Linked DNA regions of Homo sapiens: region 1 is linked to region 2. Evidence: fine-mapped expression QTL. A gene starts in region 2. The other region holds a variant in brackets. All regions are shown on one strand. Distances are from middle to middle.

Evidence for each region. PIP is the estimated chance that this variant, and not a neighbour inherited with it, causes the effect. A credible set is the group of variants that fine-mapping cannot tell apart.
Region 1: its variant is the best candidate, but not a certain one, in a credible set for the expression of ERICH6 in testis (GTEx, PIP 0.70).

What each region holds. Positions count from the first base shown.
Region 1 is chr3:150,808,707-150,814,083 of GRCh38, reverse strand. No RefSeq gene overlaps it. Among named protein-coding and RNA genes, the nearest start is that of SIAH2, 48 kb to the right of the region's middle. The variant C/T (reference allele first, on the strand shown) is at 2,080.
Region 2 is chr3:150,701,847-150,707,223 of GRCh38, reverse strand. ERICH6 (glutamate rich 6) reads left to right here and starts at 3,304. Exons shown (of 14, transcript NM_152394.5): 1 at 3,304-3,728; 2 at 5,046-5,103. The coding sequence starts at 3,326. It overlaps ERICH6-AS1 (ERICH6 antisense RNA 1), which reads right to left and starts at 3,660. Exons shown (of 3, transcript NR_121675.1): 1 at 3,557-3,660. RefSeq lists enhancers at 3,109-3,198, 3,349-3,428.

The DNA.
Region 1 (5,377 bases), 110 kb before region 2:
GGACATGATGAACAGCAGGTCCACCCTGCTGATGATGCCATGATGACCACCCTGGCATCAATATGGGACAAAATAAAAGACTGGCCATCTATACTGCCTCTGGCATATCTTGACCAAATAAAAGGGGAAATACAAACAAACAAGAAGTTCTAAGCCCTCCAACATACTAAATGGAACCCCTTCTTGGCCAAAGGAGATCCCCCCCAAAAACCTGAAAAACTAATTTAGGTTTTTACAGAAAGCAGGGGGCTGGACACACCTCATTATACCCTCCCCACTTTGGAATTCAGATGCAACTGACCAACATTAACGTTAAAATATAGATCATAAAACTGACAAAACAGACTCTTTGTAACAATAAGATACCAAATTATAAACAGGACCCAGGACCATGCCAGGCAACAGTGAAGTCGCGCACTCCTACACTTCAAAAGTTATGTTCTAGCTGCCACAAGGTGTTTCTTTTTCACGAGCAGCCAAATGAGTACTGGATTCAAGATAAGCTGACTGACCCCTACTCCCTGTTCACCAGGCATAACTACAGCTTTAATTAGACAAGAGTCTGATTTCAGTACATTTCTCCTGATAAAAAGGTCACTGACCATGGACAAATGTTGGCTGGTATACAGAAATTGCACACTCAACGTGTATTTTTGTACATACAGGGTCTAATTATAGTACATTTATATTTTAAGTCTCCATCCCAAAATAAACATGGGTCATATGTTACATACATATTTAATACACATGTGTCAAGACCAACTTTATGAATATTCATAGCCCCTCCTATAACCTGTTAAATATGTATATTTAGCCAACCTGTTGTCATATCCCCACAGGAACTCCAGGTACAACTGACAATGGGAACTGTCCACCGTAATTAAGACTAAATGCTGTGTATACTTCCTGCACAACTCTGGAAATACACCCTCAGCCCTACAAGACGTGCACAAGCAAACTAGTGCTATGTCTAATCCTGTCATGTCCTTAAATCAAGGGTTCTCCTCATAATTCAGATCAGGCCCCTCCTAGTAAAAGAAGTTGCTCATAATTTCAGCCATGATTTTAAAAATAAGTTTATTCTTCTACTGTGGACTCTATTGCTATTACACACTCACCACTCACACTCCAATAAATATCTTCTGTATTTTTCAGAAGTTTTCAAAAATTTTTCAAGGTCAGAGACTCAGAAAAGTTTTCAATTACAAGTGGACAGGTTTTCTTCTGTTGCCCCCTAGCTGTGCCCCCTTTTCAGTAGGAAGTAGTCAAATTGACATCTCCCACTTTCCATAAAAACGGAATATAATTTCACAGTGGGGAGCTGTAACCAAGTATCTAAGCCTCAAATTACATGTTAAGGTTTTTTCCCTTTCCTTCCTAATCTCGAAGTACAGCCTTGAAATGTACTTTAAAACTCTTCGCTTCCCTCCTTTCCCACCAGGCACTCCTGTGTACAGTGCTTGCTTATCTAATTATGTGCTTGCTTAGAAATTCTAGGGGCTAATTTTAAAGCAAATCAGACAGAGACTTGACTGCAGAATCCTCCCGCTTAGGGGAGTTATGAACAATGAATTCACCACCACCAGGCCAAAGTCAAGATGAGCCAACCAGACCTCCAGATGGGCAATTCCTCAAGATGACCATCAGGAAAAGGCACACAGACCTGTACCCTCCTGCATCACTCATCCATGTTTCTCATACCAAGTTTTCCTTCATTCAGTCCAAACAGCAGAGATGATTCCTTTGAGGCTGGTACCCAATCATTCTCCCGTCTGCTAGCATTTGAATAAAAGCTGCTTTCTTTTCACCACACCTCGCTTCTTGTGCTTTGACTTCTGAGTGGTAAACAGCCAGACTTGAGTCAGCTACCTCTCTATAGCCCCAAATCCAGTTTTACCACCACAGCGAGCTATGTGACTGGTGGGAGTGTCATAATCCTGGAGTGTACCATGGAGTGGAAGGTTAAGAACAAACCTGCATGTGTGTTGTTTTTTGTTTGTTTGTTTGTTTTTGAGACAGAGCCTGGCTTTGTTGCCCAGGCTGGAGTACAGTGGCACAATATCGGCTCACTGCAATCTC[C/T]GCCTCCTGGGCTCAAACAATTCTCCTTCCTCAGCCTCCCAAGTAGCTGGGACTACTACAGGTACGCACTACCACATCCAGCTAATTTTTGTATTTTTAGTAGGGACGGGATTTCACCATGCTGGCCAGGCTGATCTCGAACTCCTGACCTCAGGTGATCTGTCCGCCTCGGCCTCCCAAAGTGCTAGGATTACAGGTGTGAGCCACTGTGCCCAGCCCACATGTGTGATCTTTATTGAAAAACATACTGTGAAATAAAAACTGACCATGAAAATACAGAGCATATGTTTGCTACAACTGTTTATAAGACGACAGCTTTCTAACTGGGCTCAACTGGTTTTCCATCTCAAGATTGTACATACTGCTCCCCTCCCTCACCTCCACCCACTTATTTTGCACTCTCTAGAAAGAGAAGTTAAAATTCATAAGGCATTTTAACGCAGTGAACAGCACAGGGTTTTCCCTACCCATACTCTCTACCTGTCAGATACTGCAGGACAGAAGAATTCTAACCAAATTCCCTTTGTTATAATTTAAAAATATTTAGGAATATATTTAATGAAACTTTCTGACCTTTGATTTCTAGATGTAAATATGCTCATCCAGGAGTCTCTTGGGAATGGAAAATTTTATTTTATGACCTATATAATTATGAAATTCTTTCTTTCCTTCAGCACATTGCATTTTTTCCGACAGTTATAAAAGGAGTCATTCAATAGACAAGAACTTGACAGGAAAAATCAATTGAGCTTAACATTATTTGAAAACAATTAGACTATTTTCAAAAAGCATTTTTTATTTTCCATTTTGATTTAAAATAAACTTATACACTAATAGATCATATGCATCTGTAGAAGAATCTTGAAATTAAAATCAAGAATTCCCCATAAAGTCTAAACAGATTTCCCTTGTATCACAGAATAGATGAGTATCAGAAAAGTTGCTGCAAAACAACTCCTCCTTTCTCATATTCACTATAAAATAGGAGATGTGTCCATTGGAGAGAAAAAGCTTAGGTTTTATGAAATCAAGATGGCATCCAAATCCAGGGCATGCTGGGTAGTGCAGACTCCAGAGGGGTTAGACCTCATTGGAGTCATCCTGTCCATTTGCCCACTGAACACTGCAGAACCATCCTGACACCAGAGCTCTTCCCTCAGTCCTTTCATCTTTTTGTTGTCCTACTCCACAGGAATTTCTGCACAGTAGAAGAACCCCTGACTGAAATTCTGCTCCTTTCTTTCTTTAGTTGAAGAAATTAAAATGCTCTGACATGCCTTTGCTCATCTTTGCCGACTTATTCCTACACATGCTTCAAAAATCAGGTCAGATGCCTCCTCTTCCAGAAACCCTTCTCTGACAAACCATTCTCCTATTGTTCCACCAAACTGATTCAATAATACATACAATGACAGATTATTCCATCCACATTTTTTTTTTTTTTTTGAGATGGAGTCTCACTCTGCCACTCAGGCTGGAGTACAATGGCGCAATCTCAGCTCACTGCAACCTCCACCTCCCAGGATCAAGCGATTCTCCTGCCTCAGCCTCCTGAGTAGCTGGGATTACAGGCACGCACCACTATGCCGGGCTAATTTTTGTATTTTTAGTAGAGACGGGGTTTCACTGTGTTGGCCAGCCTGGATACTTCTTAATGTAAAGATTTTAGAGTCTGTAAAATAAATCACTATTTAATAAACTAAATATTTAACACTCCATATGTTGATTTTACTTAACCCAGTATAAATATAAAATAGACTCTATAGTGATTTTAAAATTCTCATTCACTGTGAAAGAATGAAAATTACGCCCAAATATTCATTTCCCTTCTTCTATATTACTACAGTAGTATTAAAAGTTTTCATCTGGACACACAGCCTCCCAGAATACATTTCCCAGGCTCCTGTGCAGCCAGATGTAGCTACATAACTCAGTCCTGGCCCAACTGTATGTGAGAAGAAGCTAGCAGTGCAAATACCAAGCTGGGTTCTTAAAGGGAAAGGGTGAATGCTCAATGTTATCAAATGGTACCAAACATGCTCAATAAATGTTAACTTAAAAAAAAAAAAGTAGGTATGACTAGAACCCAGAGGGCAATCTGAAGAGTTATCAGAGAGTAAGTAGGCTGGAAGGGATAGTCTATGAGCAAATCAAAGATTTTGGGATTTCATCCTAAAGCCTAAGGGAAACTCCAAAAAAAAATTTAAGCAGGAGGCTGACATGAGTCAGATAGATTTCTCCCTTAGAGTGCTCAATCTGGCAGCAGAGTAGCACATGGATCAAAAGAGTCAGGCCCTCTCTCCAAATGGACCACAGTAACTTTGCACAAAAACATTCCACACATTGCACCCCCTAAATACGTTTCGTGAAATCTAGAGGTGAAAATGGGGTAGACCAAGTAGTGTAAACAGATTATCTACCTGATAATGACAATTCACAACTGTCTGATGGGGGCTCGCTGCCTTGTCTCTGTGTAGGAAGGAAAGCATATTATTGCTTTTGTCATTATAAATCTATAATAACCTAAGTTGCTATGAAAAAAAAAGTCCTTGGTCATAAGACCAAGAGTATCATTTTCCACATAGGATTAAGCTATTACAGAACGGTGCCCCATGAACGGTATAAATTCACTAAAGCTCTTCTCAGGATGAAACCTGATCTATCTTAGTCTGGTTTTTCCACGCGAGTGTATCAGGAAAATCCTCAGGACTTTGCCCATTTGTTGACATCCTTTGGAAGACCCAAGAGTATTGAACAGAACACTGGGAGCAGATGCTGCTGGGGGGATCCTCCAGAAAATCTCCACCTGGAGTTGGACTGACCAGCCCTTTCCATGACATGATCTTCCTTCTTTCAGGAATGGGGGAAACCAGTACAATTGTGATCCTTTTGCTTAAGGAATACCAAGTAAGGCTTGGATACTCCCCTGTAAAATGTCTGCGTATCTGTGCTGAGGGAAAATAAATAATATATGCAAATCCTTGCTGGAAGGTTAGGGGAGGGCTTTCCTTCCCAAATAAAGTAAAATAAAAATCACTATGAACCAAGAGTTCATTTCTTCACGGGTCGTGAGTGTAAGCAAATTTACCAAAAGTCTGAAAGCTCTCCTGGGGAAGACAAAAAGCACTAGAGTACCACCTCCATTTTCTGAAAGGGTAGCCAGTCGGGTCTGCAGAGGCTCAGCTATAAAGGTATAAATGACTCCTTGGTTGTCTGCCCAAATCACCAAGGGAGCAAAACCAGCCTTCAAGGCCTCACCCCCTTCAGACAATTAAGTCTCATCTTCAAGCAGGGAATG
Region 2 (5,377 bases):
AATTACATAACATTATATACTTGAGATAGGAAATTTTTTAAAAATCCATTACCTCTTGATATGGTTTGGCTCTGTTTCCTGACCCAAATCTCATCTTGAATTGTAATCCCCACATGTTGAGGGCAGGACCTGGTGGGAGGTGATCAGATCATGGGGGTGGTTTCCCTCATGCGGTTCTCGTGATAGTGAGGGAGTTCTCAATGAGATCTGATGGTTTAAAAGTGGCAGTTTCTGGCTGGGCATGGTGGCTCACACCTGTAATCCCAGCACTTTGGGAGGCCAAGGCGGGTGGATTACCTGAGGGCAGAAGATCGAGACCATCCTGACTAACACGTGAAACCTCGTCTCTACTAAAAATACAAAAAATTAGCCAGGCGTAGTGGCGGGCGCCTGTAGTCCCAGCTACTCGGGATGCTGAGGCAGGAGAATGACGTGAACCCGGGAGGCCAAGCTTGCAGTGAGCCAAGATTGCGCCACTGCACTCCAGCCTGGGCAACAGAGTGAGACTCTGTCTCCAAAAAAAAAAAAGAAAAAGTGGCAGTTTCCCCTGCACTCTCTCTCTCCTGCCAACAAGTAAGATGTGCCTTGCTTCCCCTTCACCTTCAGCCATGATTGTAAGTTTCCTGCGGCCTCCCCAGTTATATGGAACTGAGTCAATTAAACCTGTTTATTTTATATATTACTCAGCCTCAGGCAATTCCTTATAGCAGTGTGAAATCGAACTAATATACCTTTGAAGCACTCAATACATTAGAAACATTTTCTAAACAGAGTTATGTGGTCCTAAAATAATAATAATAAAATACAAAATCAGTCCTCAGAAAATAGGCCAGACAGGATGACTCACACCTATAATCCCAGCACTTTGGGAGGCCAAGGTAGGAGGATTGAGTCCAGGAGTTCAAGACCAGCCTGGGTAACACATTGAGATGCCATCTTAGGAAAAAAAAAAAAGAAGAAGAAAATAAACAATAATTAAATTTTATCTCAAAATAGCCCCATAAATTAAGTGGAAAGGTACTGATATTTCCATTTAACACACCAAGAAACTGAGGCTCAGTAACCCCAAAGTCACAGTTAGTCAGGGCTGGTGCCTGGTTCTCAAATCTCAAGTTCCTGAGTCAAGCTAGACACCAGGAATGGAGAAGGGGAAAATATAAACTGACCCAGCATCATATTATCTCTGAACGGCCAAAACAAGAGTGGCATCAACTCATGAGAAAATAAGGGACTGTTCTTTCCGTAGTAAGTAGATCCAAGGGAAGGAGATTCCATAAAATGTTCAAAAAAGGTCTTAAATAGAGGGTCTAAACAAGGAGTACTTAAACAAATTAATTCACCACACAATTGAGAAAATGCCAGGGCAGTCACAGAACTGAGCTACAGCAGGCACAAGCGGAGTAAGCACAAGCACTGTCACCCTTGCTGTCTGCCAGCCCCGTGTCTCATCCCCACATCCTGACTTCCAGTCTGCTCTCTGAGGACCCTGGTTGAATTTCCTAACTTCTAAGATAGCTTCCAGCATCAAACTGTTAGTATTGTCCAGAAAAGAAATGAGCTTTTTCTTATTTTCTCTTTTTAAATTACACTTACCTTATTTGTACCTCAATATCTGTACACATAGTTCCCTGTCCTGACCCTCCTTTCCTGCCGTGAGCCTGCTGGAAAGCTTTTCACTTTCCTCTCTGGTCACCACATTTTGCCCTTCCTTTTAAAGCAACTCAGATGTCTCCTCTCATCTGTGCTGCCTGCTCCTTTAGCCTGCAAGAACTCTACTTTCAAAAATATTCCCTAGCCAGGCACAGTAGCTCACGTCTGTAATCCTAAGAACTTTGGGAGGCCCAGATGGGAGGATCTCTTGAGCCCAGGAGCTTGAGACCGAGAGTTTGAGACCAGCCTGGGCAACATAGCAAGACGCCATCTCTACAAAAAGTAGTCCCAGATACTCGGGAGGCTGAGGCGGGAGGATCAGCTTGAGCCGGGAGGAGGAGGTTGCGGTGAGCTGAGATAGCACCACTGCACTCCAGCCTGAGCGACAGGGTAAGACCCTGTCTCAAAATAAATATAATACAGGCCAGGCACTGTGGCTCACGCCTGTAATCCCAGCACTTTGGGAGGCTGAGGCAGGCAGATCACGAGGTCAGGAGATCGAGACCATCCTGGCTAACACGGTGAAACCCCATCTCTACTGAAAATGCAAAAAATTAGCCAGGCGTGGTGGCACGTGCCTGTAGTCCCAGCTACTCGGGAGGCTGAGGCAGGAGAATTGCTTGAACCCAGGAGGCTGAGGTTGCAGGGAGCCGATATGGTGCCACTGCACTCCAGCCTGGGTGACAGAGCGAGACTCCGTCTCAAAATAAATATAATATAATATAATATAATATAATATAATATAATATAATATAATATAATATATAAAATTGGCCAGGCGTGGTGACACACATTTGTTGTCCTTGCCACTTGGGAGACCGAGGTGGGAGGATCACTGGAGCCCAAGAGTTCAGGGCTGAAGTGAACCATGATGCCGCCACTGCACTCCAGCCTGGGTGACAGAGTGACATCCTGTCTCTCAAAAATAAAAAATGTATATATTTTACAAAAATGTAAGTAAATACAAAGTCCCAGAAGGACGCAGGTGGTACCTAGGTGGCCAGATGCTTCAGGACTTTTCTACTCCAGGATGGATAGATGGGCCAAGTAAGAAGCAGGACCCAGATCACAGCAAGGAGCAAAATTTATGGGACGCTAAAAATGTCGCCAATCAAGATTAATTAATATTAATCTAACAATATTTAAGATAACTAACATTTAAGGCAATTTTAATACGCTTATTAATATTTAAAGCTATTTTAAAAATATCCGCAAACGAGGGCCCAAGGGCTGGCGCCTGATTTTGTAAATAAAGTTTCACTGGACGTTCCAGCAAGCATCTGTCTACTCAATAACCAGACTCCAGCATCCGCAATACCAAATGGCACCGTGTGTGTCCGTCGCTAGAAGCCACTTCCTCCACCCAAGTTAAAAAAAAAAAAAAAGGCCCCAAATAAGCTGAGAGACGAAGAAAAGATCGTTTCTCCGCAGGCTGCCAGGGGTTTCAGAGACGCTGAAGAGCAGGGACAGAAAGAAGTCTGCGGTGGCCCCCACCGGCCCTCGGCACCCACATTCTATCCGGCTAACCAGCTCCTGCCGCTTTAAATCCGGGAGGCTCGGTGGCGCAGGGCAAGCAGTTGCCCGGGGAGACCAACGCACAACAGAGGCTCGCGCTCGCGAGAGCCGACCGGGGCCGCGGCCAAAGAGCTGGCTGTAATCCCGCCTCCCGCCAGCCATGGCCCACTTGCGCTCGCCTAGCGGCTTCGGAGACCCGGGGAAGAAGGACCAGAAGGAGTCAGAGGAGGAGTTAGAGGAGGAGGAGGAGGAGGAAGAGGTGGAGGAGGAGGAGGAAGAGGTGGAGGAGGAGGAGGAAGAGGTGGAGGAGGAGGAGGAGGAGGTGGTGGAGGAGGAGTTGGTGGGGGAAGAGCAGGAGTTGGAGGCCCCTGAGACGTTCAGCGAAGAGTACCTCTGGAAGGTCACGGACATCGGTGACTACGACGACGACTTCCCAGACGTGCGCCCCCGCTTAGCCAGCATCGTCAGCCCTAGCCTGACCTCTACGTTCGTGCCCAGCCAGAGCGCGACCAGCACTGAAACGCCGAGCGCAAGCCCACCCTCCAGCACCTCCTCGCATAAAAGTACCGCCCCCGACCCACCCCTTCCTCGAGGGTTTCTCGTCTCCAGGGGGCACCTGGTCCACCCACTCCTGGGTGGTGCCTTCGTCGACCTGCGCGTCGTGCCTGATTTCTAAATGCATGCACCATTCCACACACCTAATCTCTCTCACGCCCTTGTCAGAGACACTGAACCCTTGGCTGAGCTGTTGTGATGAGGCACGATTTAGGATATAGGCGAAACACCATAAAAGTTGAACTTGGGCATGGCTGTATGAAGTGCTTTTTTTTTTTTAGACAAGAGTCTCGCTCTGTCGCCCAGGCTGGAGTGCAGTGGCTGCAGCCTCGACCTCCTGGGCTCAAGCCTCCCACCGCAGCCTCTCGAGTAACTGGAACTACAGGCACACGCCACCACACCCAGCTAATCTGGCGTCTCACTATGTTGCCCAGGCTGCTGGGAGTGCTCATTTTTATAACATTTTTGCGTGCATTCACACCGTGACATCTCTCTCTCTCTCTCTCTCTGTTCCCCCTCCCCTCCCTCTTCCTCCCCTCCCTCTCCCCTCCCCCTCTCTTTCTCTCTCCCTCTCTCTCTCTCTCACAGACACACACACACACACACACACACACTCATATTATTTCCAGAGAAGTGCCTTAAGGGTGCTGTACTACTGAAACAGTCCTGCAAAAAAAAAAAACAACTCTCTTTTGTGTTTAACATCCTGTGCTGAAGCCACTCCAGTCACTTCCTTGAAAAAAGAAGCAGAGAAGTCTTCTAGAGTAGGCTTCTCAAGCTCTAGTGTTGACATTTTGGTCTGGATAATTCTTTGTTGGGGAGGATTGGGGACTGTCCTGTGAATTACAGGATATTTGGCAGCATCCCTGTCCTCTACCCGTGGCTGTGCTAGAAGCACACATCCTTGCGATGATCAAAAATGTCTCCAGGCCGGGCGCGGTGGCTCACGCCTGTGATCCCAGCACTTTGGGAGGCCTAGGCGGGCAGATCACGAGGTCGGGAGATCGAGACCATTCTGGCTAACATGGTGAAACCCCGTCTCTACTAAAAATACAAAAAATTAGCCGGGCGTGGCGGCGTGCGCCTGTAGTCCCAGCTACTTGGGAGGCTGAGGCAGGAGAATAGCGTGAACCCGGGAGGTGGAGCTTGCAGTGAGCCAAGATCGCGCCATTGCACTCCAGCCTAGGCGACAGAGCGAGACTCCGTCTCAAAAAAAAAAAAAAAAAAAAAAAAGTCTCCAGACATTGCCATGTGTTCCTGGGGGGGGTAGAATTGACCTTTTGATTTAGAGGGAATAGCTGATTTTTAAATGTTTCATTCAACAGGTTTCCCTAAAATATTTCAGACATTTAGGAAAGACATGTCTGAAATGAGTATAGATAGGTAAGAAAATGTTTTCAAATTTCACATTTTTTGAACCCAATAATGTTTACCTTTTGGATAAACATGTTAGGAAGTAGAGTAAAATAATCCAGGGCATTTGTGACTTACTTATTTTAAAAAGTTTTTTTTAAATATACACTGGTAGACACTTTGAAAGAGATAAAGGTTCCCACTTATCCCCAGCTTATTACCTAGCTCTAGAGATTACATGTCCACTTATCAATGTAACATGAAAGAATAACTATATATGCCATGTGTGCAATTGTAAGTGCTT